Linked DNA regions of Homo sapiens. The protein of the gene in region 2 purifies or fractionates together with the protein of the main gene of each other region. This does not show direct contact. Each region holds a gene or a part of one and is shown on either strand. Other genes may lie near its edges. The genes, in order: PPP2R2C, TMTC3 and COTL1.

Region 1 (3,653 bases), on a different chromosome or scaffold from region 2:
GAATGCTGAAGGGTGAGGCGGCAGGGAGGGCTGCAGAGGGTAAGTCAACTGCCTCTAGGGCTGAGCACCACGCCTGGTACACAGCAGAGGCTCAGCAAATGGCAGGTGAATCAGATGAGGACACAGGCACACAGAAGACAAACCCCACTCCGCTCCTCTCGGGAAACCGCACCAGACCTGGGACCTGGGATGTTTCAAGACATTCAGAAGACCTAGGAGAGGAGCTTGCATCTGCAAATTCTCAGCATGAATTCACCATCCAAAAAACAACGGTGAGGTCATCAGCTCTGAGACAGGGCGAATTGCCCCATTTATAACCAAAAGAACCCCTGGCTGGCTCGTTTGAGACTCATCATCTGTCCCTGGAGCCCTGATCTGGGACCAGTGAGGCATGGGGGAGAAGCAGCTCCCATCAGCTCCGGTCCCTGCAACAGGACGCACTGGAGTGAAAAATTAACCCGGACGCATAAAAAGTCCTATTGATGTGGTAAAGACCGCAGACCGAGACAGGAAGGGACGTGAATGAAAGAACCCTGAACTGTAAGACTCCACAGTCATGTCCATTTTATGATTTGTGGCGGTGAACGCTTCCTTTCCTTTTTATTTTTTTAAACAGACAATTACTGCCAAACACAATTCTGGCCTAGGAAAGCTGGGGCAGGGAGGGGGCCCAAACTTCCTGTGTCCACACACTGCCACCTCTGCAGCTGTCCTCATCAGTGCTGTGACTTTCTTCCCCTCCTTGCATTGCGGTCGTGAAGGTCATGTCGGGGATGACTTGCATGAGGCTGGGTGGCAGGGGCCGGGAACTGCACATACCTAGTGCATGTCAGAGTTTACCTTGTCCTGGAAGATGTACAGGTTGTTGGTGGCGGCGATGGCAATGATGTTCTCAGCCGGGTGCCAGGCCGTGTGCAGGATCTTCTTGGTGAAGTCCAAGCTGTCCACACTGATGTCATCACGCCGGCGCTTGCCCCCCACGCACACGCGCCGTGGCTTGAGCACAGCCCGGGGCTTGCTGCTTTCCCTCGAGGCCTCCAGGGTCACGTCCCGCTTGGTGTTCCGATCGAACATGCGGAAGAAGTTGTTGTAGGCCCCGGTCATGATGACGCTGGTGGGAGAAGGAGAGGCATCAGGTGAGGAGGAGCACAAGCCCCTTCTCGAGAAATAAGCCCAGGTGTGGGGGCTCACGCCCATAATCCCAGGACTTTGGGAGGCCCCGGTGGGAGGATTGCTTCAGCCTAGGAGTTCAAGACCAGCCTGGACAACATAGCGAGACTCCACCTCTACAAAAAAAAATTAAAAATGACCGTAGTCCCAGCTATTCAGGAGGTTGAGGCAGGAGGATCACCTGAGCCTGGGGAGGCAGGAGGATCACCTGAGCCTGGGGAGGCAGAGACTGCAGTGAGCTGTGATTTACCACTGCAGTCTAGCCTGGGTGACAGAGTAAAACTCTGTCCCAAAACAACAAACAAATGAAAAAGCAATCCCAGAGCCTACAGAGCCATCACTCCCTGGAAAGGGAAACCACACCTGCCTCTATTCCCCTGTATCTTGGGGTCTCTTATACCCCCTCACATGTCAGCTGCCACCAACATGCAGACTTTGGGGCCAGGAGCTAAGATCCTTTTTATCCTCTGCCCCAATCATCATGAAAATACCCTCCTGGCCAGGCGTGGTGGCTCACACCTGTAATCCCAGCACTTTGGGAAGCCAAGGCGGGCAGATCACCTGAGGTTAGGAGTTTGAGACCAGCCTGGCCAACATGATGAAACCCTGTCTCTACTAAAAATACAAAAATTAGCTGGACATGGTGGTGGGCACCTGTAATCCCAGCTACTCAGGAGGCTGAGGCAGGAGAGTTGCTTGAATCCAGGAGGCAAGGTTGTAGTGAGCCAAGATCGCGCCACTGCACTCCAGCCTGGGCAATAAGAGCAAAACTCCGTCTCGAAAAAAGAAAAGAAAAGAAAAGAAAAGACCCTCCTGTAATTTCTGTTAGTCCAGGAGAGAAAGCTCTGGCCTTCCAAACAGACTGTGCAACCACAGCAGGAGGTAGACATGGAAGCAGCTGGGACAGAAAACCACCAGGCCCTGCTTCCCTCCAGGGGCCCGCCTGTCCCGAGGACTCGGGCGAATAAACAAACATGCATCGCCATGAGGGTCGGGGCGAGCAGTGCTGACGTGCAGGGGCTCGCTGCCCTCACCGTCCCGCTAAAGAGAATTCCACACCATTTCTCTGCTCTCCCTGCTCCTAAGGAGAAGGGGTTCCTGCCGGTGGGAGGAAGGGTAAGTTCATCCACATAGTAAGAGGCAGGAGAGAAAGCACAGTTCTGTGGGCCTGCGCCCAGAGGGAGGGTTTTGGGGTTTGGCCTCTGCAGGGCCCTGGAGCAGCTGTGAGGTGCAAGGTAACTGGGGAGGAAGAGGATGTTACGAAAAGCGACCATAAAGAAGTTGTCCTGCTGAAGGCTCTTCAGGGAGGAAATCCTGTTTCCTTTTGGAAGCTGAGCTGGGCTTCCTGAGGGTGACACTGCTCTGTGACAGAACCAGGTGGATCCCTGGGTCTCCAGGGGTTATGCACAGAGGACAAAAGCTCACACGTGAGCTCCGGCACTGCAGTCAGGGGCTTGGGCTCTGGCCAGTCCGCCTGGGTCCGGATCCCAGCTCTGCCCTACCCTGACATGCGCACTCTCTTAGTTTTCTATAAGAACTGGGATCAACAAGGGAACGCAGCCCCTGGTGAGCGTGAATCAGGGGACATAGGCTGAACACCCCGCACAGTGCTGGGCTTGAGGCACTTTGCTTCTTGTTATTTACCAGGTACTCCTCGATCCTAATCGTCCATGTGACCAAAGCCGCACCCGCTTTATATGTGACTCAGAGCCTGGGACAAGGGAAGCAGCATGCGAGGGGGGCCGGGTGAACGAGTCCCACAGAAGGGCCCTGCCCAGGCGCCACAGGCTGACTGGGGGAGGCCACACCCTCCCCGCGCCAGCACAGTGGGGAGGCAGCCCCCTTTGTTCTTCAGGGAACAGTTCACAGAATGAACCTGGGTGATTTCACACAATGCTGGTTCTTCTGATCCATTTAGTGGAAGGAGAGCGACATAATTAAAGTCATTTGCAACCCACACAGTTCCTGATCCTCCCCCTGTTCGGGTGTGGAATTCAGCTGACACGTGCTCTGGGGGAGAGGGAGGGGCCCCTCTCATCCTAGAGCACCAGGCCGCACCACCATGAGAGCCATTCCTCACATTCAGGCAGGTTTCTTAAATTCCAGAAGGTTCCCTTAACAGGGAAAAGGGCAGGGGAGCTGCTTCACCTCTCCTAGCCTCATCTGCATGTGGGACCACAACGCCGGCTGCTTTCAGCCCCAGTGCTCCGCTCCTCTTTCCTTTGGGGAAAGAAAGGCTCCTGCCCTCGCCACCCGTGGCGCCTGTAATCCCAGCTACTTGGGAGGCTGCGGCAGGAGAAGTGTTTGACTCCAGGAGGCGGAGGTTGCAGCGAGCCGAGATGGCGCCACTGCACTCCCTATCCCTGTGAGCGGTCAATCACAGTGCTCTCCTCGCCCCTTGGCCTGGCCAACTTGGGCATGTGATATCCCTGTCCATGCTGATTGGTGCAAAAAGTGGGCAAGTGACCCACACAGAGCCAATC
Region 2 (3,193 bases):
CATAGTGAGACCCTGTCTCAAAAAAAAGAAGATACATGTTTCCTAAATCCTAATTTTATAGCCCTATATTTAATGGTATGTTTTTGTCCTCGAAACATTCCTAAAACTTTGAAGTAACATTTTTTAAAATGTGATACAGTCATTCTGAAGCTTTTTTCTACCCAGTAATAGTTACTATTTGCTGAACATTTTTTCGATATACAACATACAATTATTAGAAAACTCAGTTAACCCAGAGAAGTTAAGTAACATGTTCAGTGTATAAAGTCATAATGTTATCAGAATCAAGATTGAATACATGTCTTTGTTGGCAAATCCCATGCTTCTTTTTCTGAATTCTCTATTTTCCTTCTATTTCCAATTGAATTCTAAATTATAAGAGACATTTCTCTCCTTTTGGTTTCTGAAGCACTGTTACTGCTTTAAAGGAAAAGAAATAAGCTATCTTTTTACTGTTTCAAATATTTTGCTTTTCCTATGAAGACTTCGAGATTTTTGCTTTCTACTTTTTTTAACTATGGAAATTAGTTGTTTTGAAGCTGTCTTTTTGTAATCTAAGTATTTGAAAATGGCTTTGTTCCTCACATTTAATTATTTTATTAACAATATATTTTTTCTTTAAAAAAACTTTCTAGGTGAGGTTAAACTCAGACCTGAAGCTAGAAAACGACTTCTAAGTTATATAAATGAAGAGCCACTAGATGCTAATGGGTATTTCAATTTGGGAATGCTTGCCATGGATGACAAAAAGGACAATGAAGCAGAGATTTGGATGAAGAAAGCCATAAAGTTACAAGCCGACTTCCGAAGTGCTTTGTTTAATCTGGCTCTCCTGTATTCCCAGACTGCAAAGGAATTAAAGGCTTTGCCAATTTTGGAGGAGTTACTCAGATACTACCCTGATCATATCAAGGGCCTCATTTTAAAAGGAGACATTCTGATGAATCAAAAGAAAGATATACTAGGAGCAAAAAAATGTTTTGAAAGGATTTTGGAGATGGATCCAAGCAATGTGCAAGGAAAACACAATCTTTGTGTTGTTTATTTTGAAGAAAAAGACTTATTAAAAGCTGAAAGATGCCTTCTTGAAACACTGGCATTAGCACCACATGAAGAATATATTCAGCGCCATTTGAATATAGTCAGGGATAAGATTTCCTCATCTAGTTTTATAGAGCCAATATTCCCAACCAGTAAGATTTCAAGTGTGGAAGGAAAGAAAATTCCAACTGAAAGTGTAAAAGAAATTAGAGGTGAATCCAGACAAACACAAATAGTAAAAACAAGTGATAATAAAAGTCAGTCTAAATCCAACAAACAATTAGGAAAAAATGGAGACGAAGAGACACCCCACAAAACAACAAAAGACATCAAAGAAATTGAGAAGAAAAGAGTTGCTGCTTTAAAAAGACTAGAAGAGATTGAACGTATTTTAAATGGTGAATAACATTAATATTTATCGTGACAATGGTATCAAAGAACATCAATCCGTATCATGTGATTGCTTTTACTGGGAGCTTTGAAAAAAAGTTCAAGGGTTCCTAATGGTCAATCATGAGCTGCCTTGAAGTAGGATCAAAATAAGATTTTCATTAAAGACCTGTATTATCCCAGGATGTATATTATGTATCGCTGTTTTCAGAGTGTGGGTGAATATAGCAGAAATATTACAGCGGAAGTGACAAATTTACAACTTTTATTATAGAAAGAAGGTGTTTCTGGCAATGTAATCTTTACTGCTCTCAATTAAAAATAATTTTGAGGCCTGAATGATAATCCCTTGAGGACAAATCCAACATGTGCTGGTTTATTCTGTTAATTCCCATTTATTTGCCTACTTCATTTTTCTTGCACCTCTTAGAATCTAACTATGAATTGAAAACACTTAAGTAATTCTGTTTAATCAAGGGATTTACACTACAAAAGAATGCTGGCTTTTTTTATGTTGTATTCCTTAGTTGAGTTTTAGAAGGAATGCTTGATGAAACATTTTAAAATAAGTCATGACATGTTAGCTTGAGAATGTATTTTCATAATTGTATACTTGTTTTTAACTTTAAATGTAATTTTTAATCAGGTAAAGTTTGACACATGTATAGCTACATACACACATTTTTAATGGTGCTCATATATACTGTATTTTTTGTTGTTTAGTTTTACTTATTGAGAGTGTCACAACATGAATCACATAATCATGATTTTTTTTTTTTACTTTTACTCCCCAAATTATTCATGTTTCTTAGATCGTAGTCATTGAGAAGTCCCAATAACTCTAAACTTTTGAGTTATAACGTAGTAAACTTCTCTTTCATCTTTGTGTTAGCTCTGTAGTCTTAACCTGGATTTTAATTTTTTTGTTTCCAAAGTCACAATTGAATTATTCTTAGATACCTTAAGCCACTGAATTCAGTTCTGTTTGACTGAAAGCAAAACAACGTGACAGTTTATTTTCAAACACTAACTTCTTGATATTTTGTTATGGTATATCTTTTTATTAAATATTTATTTTGACTAAGCTTTCATAAAATATTTGAAGCTATTTTAATCATCAAGTATGGAAAACAAATTACTATTGCATTTTCCTATATATGCATATATTATGGATTAACCAGAATTGTATCATTTTTGGCCTAATGTCTGGATATAAAAGATAATTAGCCTACTATAGTATTAATAAATTTTTCAGTTGGTTTGGGCAAATTTAAACCTGAAAAATAGGTTAAAAAGTAGTTACAAATTAAACTTACTAATTTATACCTGATTTTTTTTCTTGAATTAAAGTACATTTTAAATGAGCTTTATAATACCTTAAAAAGTTGGTTCTAATTTAAAATATGAAAGCTCTGGCTATCATCCTGGGATAGTAATTTCTAATTATATAGTATTTCAAAACTATATATTTTTTAGTTCCTTTGAGATAACTAATTTCTAATTATATATGTTTCAAAAACCATATCCTGTATTTTTTTTAAGAATTGTTTTATAAATAGGTCATAAGATACAAGGTCTGCATTAGAAGACCCACTCTTACTAGGTTCCCTAAGGATCTGCCATAGATTTTTTTTTTTTTTTTTTTTTTTTTAGGTAGTTTAAAGCAAGCACTGATACCAGTGGGAGTTGGTCTTGATCTAGGAGATTCTGTTAAGCATCCAAAAACAATGCCTAATTTCAGTTCTTAGGTTATGGCTTGTGA
Region 3 (3,653 bases), on a different chromosome or scaffold from region 2:
TTGTGGGAGGTGGCTCTAAAATATCTATGATCCCCTTTTGTAGTAGAATTACATACAGAAAACTATTTCAAGAATATAGATAAAAATGAGACCAGCGGTCTGTCCTGGGAGATGACAATAAAATGTCAGCTCCACGAGGACAGGCGCCTTTTCTGCTTCTGTATTTATCCTCAGTGCCTACAGTCGTGCCCCACAGAGTAGCAGTCCCATATGTCGAATGAATTAAATGAATAAACAGGAGAATGAAGGAATAAACACAGGAAGGAACAAGTTCCTGAGTGTTTGCAAAACTATATCTGAACTATATCTACTTGGTATTCTCTTCTTTTGGTTTAGTCTTGCTTTATGAGTATGCCACAGAGAATATGTATTATCTGAATGGTGCAGAAACAAAATGTGATTTCACAGACAGCCCCAGCCACTGCCTCGCCACACATACGTGATCTGTAAGCCCTTTCTGCTGTGGCCAGGTAGATCATACAACCGGTCTGGCAAATGGCCCCTTTCCCTCCACCTCTGCCAGCTGAGCCCTGATTGCTCCAGGCTCCCAGTGGCTCTGTCAGGTGAACCTGTGACCCTCCAGCCCAGCTCAGCACCCATTTCCTTCCCATCATCTCTCCCCCTTCCATCTTCTTGGTGCTCTTGAACGCTACTTCCACATCACTTGAATTCCAAAAACAAAAATGGCAATCGCAGTAATTGACATTTATGGAGTGCTCACTATGTCCCAAGCAGCATAAGGACTTGCTTCCTTAATCCTCCTAATGACCACACTGTAGCAGGTTACCAGATGGGTAACTCACCTGCTCCAGAGCACATGAATGGCAGGTATTTGAACCCAGGCAATCGGACAAAACCCAAACCTTGAACTACTGAGCTAAGCACCTCTCATCATGCTCCTTCATGCAGACCCGGGCCAAGGGTCTAATGCGTGTCCACATGGGGCCAAATGCCTATTGCATACCAGCCTGGGCCAGGTGCCTACTTTGTGCTGAGTGGGGACGTGTACTGAAAGCTTCCGAGTGGAAAGCATAATGCCTCTACGAGTGCTATCAGAGTAAAAATAATTATTTGAGGCCGGGCGCGGTGGCTCACGCCTGTAATCCCAGCATTTTGGGAGGCTGAGGCAGGTGGATCACCTGAGGTCAGGAGTTTGAGACCAGCCTGGCCAACATGGTGAAACCCCGTCTCTACTAAAAATACAAAAACTTGCCGTGTGTGGTGGCACATGCCTGTAGTCCCAGCTACTTGGGAGGCTGAGGCAGGAGAATCTCTTGACCCCGGGAGGCAGAGGCTGCACTCCAGCCTGGGCGACAGAGAAAAACTTTGTCTCAAAAAAAAGAAAAGCAGTGGTAGGGGTAGCCAACACACACCGTGGCCTGTGCTCTCATTTTAGGTGCATTACTTCAGTGAACCCTCCCAGTCACCCTCAGAGGTAGGCATGTCAGGATTCCCATTTTACAGACCTAAAAACTGAGGCACAGAGGGAGGGAGGCACTTGCCCAAGGCCACACACACAATGAGTGAGAAGCAGAGCGGAGATGTCAATCTAGAATGACTCTTTCTTTCTTTCTTTCTTTCTTTTTTTTTTTTGAGATAGAGTCTCACTCTGCTGCCCAGGCTAGAGTACAACAGCGCGATCTCGGCTCACTGCAACCTCTGCCTCCTGGGTTCAAGTGATTCTCCCGCCTCAGTCTCCGAGTAGCTGGGATTATAGGCGCCGGCCACCATGCCTGGCTAATTTTTGTATTTTTAGTAGAGACAGGGTTTCACTGTGTTGGCCAGGCTGGTCTCGAACTCCTGACCTCAAGTGATCCACCTGCCTTGGCCTCCCAAAGTGCCGGGATTACAGGCATGAGCCACGGCGCCCGGACTAGAGTGTTTCTGATTCCAAAGTGTACTCAGAGTTGAAATGAAGAAGGAATCACACTAAGCTAGGTGGGTGGCTGAGTCCTAAATGAGTTGAGATGGGGAAGAGGAATACCGCATGGTAGAAACCTCCAAAATCAAAAGCACCAAGACGGGAAATGTTACAGTGTTGGGCTGCAGATGTGTGAGGGAGGGTGTGTGGAGCTACTAGAGAGGAGATATGGGTGGGGACAAACCGACTAGAAAGCCAAGCAGACAGCATGAGTGTAATCCAATGGGGCAGAAGGGAGCCATAGAAGGTTAATGAGCAGAGGAGTGACTTGATTAGAAATGTACTGTAGAAAGAATTACCCCAGCAAGGGAGGACAGAGTGGATACCAGACAAGGAAGATTAAGGGCAAATAGACTGTTGCTATGAAGAGGAAAGCAGAGATGTTAAGGGGCAAATGGACACTTTTGTGAAAGTGGCATGCCATTCTTCCCTAGGAAGCCACCTCCTCAAGTCAGTCTCCTGGTTTGAGTGGGGCTGCCCCGCCCCCCACCCACTCCAGAGGTGGGCATGTGATCCAGGCCTGGCCACGCAGAGTCTCCATGATTGGTCTAGGGATGGGCACATGACCTCAGGGCCAAAGACAGTCCAGGGACCCCCAAAATCACTGGCAAAGAGGCTTGCTCCGTCTTTCCACCAAGATGGCTCTGCCCAGGGGCTAAACCTCCCCCCTCCCCGCAAGAATGGAGGTGAAGGATGAAGACAGAGCTAGGAGGAGGAGGAGAGGCTGTTTGGAGTTCGGGCAGTCTTTGCTGCTGCTAGGACTTCCCCTGGAGTTTCCAGGCTAGAGGCCACAGTGGATTTTCTGCTTACATTAATCTGCACTGGGCATTTCTCACCGCCCTCGCAAGGTCTCTGACCATCCCAGGCGAACTGAGCTATGGAGCAAGAAGCAAGAGCGGAGGTAGCGGAGGGGCAGGCAGCGAGGAAGGCCGGGAGCCAGGCAAGCTCGGGAAGAAGCAGCGCAGACCCAGAGCAGGCAGAAAGATTGGGAGGATGAGTGCGGGGGTGGGAGGGAACTGGCCTGGCAGCACAGACACCCCGTGGCCCTCTGGAAAACAGCTCTGAGGGAGGAAAGGCCAGGCCAGGAGGCTGGGAAGAAATGAGGAGGGGAGGCTGGGTGGAGAGATCCCATTCTGGAAAGCCGTGGGGGAGGAAGGGGAGAAGGGACAGTAGCCTGAGGTGGGAGGGCCAGGGAAGGGGGTGTTTCAGAGAGAATGCCTGAGTGCCAGAGTGGGGAGGGTTGGGAGAAGAGCAGGACCCCAGGAAGGCCCACACCCTGAGGTTATAAGGAAGAAACTGGGTGCTGTTTCTGGCCTTCCAAGTCTGCTGGCCACCTTGTGAGATGTTTGGAAGCAGGAAGCCCGAACCAGAGTGGAACCTTTCTTCTCAGGCCTGTCAGGATACCTGGCAGGGAACTGGGGCCACAAAAGAGCCCTCTCTGAGTCACAAGTGGGCAACCATGTCATTTGCAACCTGCAAGCAATCCCACGAGAGGTGAGAATCTAAACAACCTCCTCAGAAGCCAAGAGCACCTGCCCCGAGCCAGCCTGCCTGGGTTCAAGTCCCAACTCTGCCACTTTCTAGCTGGGTGAATGCAGGAAGCCTATTAACCTCTCTGGGCCTCCGTTTCCTCATCTGTAGAATAGGAGTAACCTTAGTACCTGCCACACCAGGCTGTTCTGAGGTATGACCAAGATAAGGCACGTCGAGCGTGGTGACTGCTATCCAGCCA

Evidence for each region.
Region 1: the proteins of TMTC3 (region 2) and PPP2R2C purify together in Homo sapiens (co-immunoprecipitation; one large-scale study listed by IntAct). This does not show direct contact.
Region 3: the proteins of TMTC3 (region 2) and COTL1 fractionate together in Homo sapiens (co-fractionation; one large-scale study listed by BioGRID). This does not show direct contact.

The regions. Positions count from the first base shown.
Region 1 is NC_000004.12:6,322,483-6,326,135, forward strand, and holds part of PPP2R2C (protein phosphatase 2, regulatory subunit B, gamma), read right to left. Parts: intron 1,112-3,653; coding exon 820-1,111; 3' UTR 1-819. UniProt on the Homo sapiens protein: The B regulatory subunit might modulate substrate selectivity and catalytic activity, and might also direct the localization of the catalytic enzyme to a particular subcellular compartment.
Region 2 is NC_000012.12:88,194,203-88,197,395, forward strand, and holds part of TMTC3 (protein O-mannosyl-transferase TMTC3), read left to right. Parts: intron 1-635; coding exon 636-1,447; 3' UTR 1,448-3,193. UniProt on the Homo sapiens protein: Transfers mannosyl residues to the hydroxyl group of serine or threonine residues.
Region 3 is NC_000016.10:84,611,426-84,615,078, forward strand, and holds part of COTL1 (coactosin-like protein), read right to left. Parts: intron 1-3,653. UniProt on the Homo sapiens protein: Binds to F-actin in a calcium-independent manner. Has no direct effect on actin depolymerization. Acts as a chaperone for ALOX5 (5LO), influencing both its stability and activity in leukotrienes synthesis.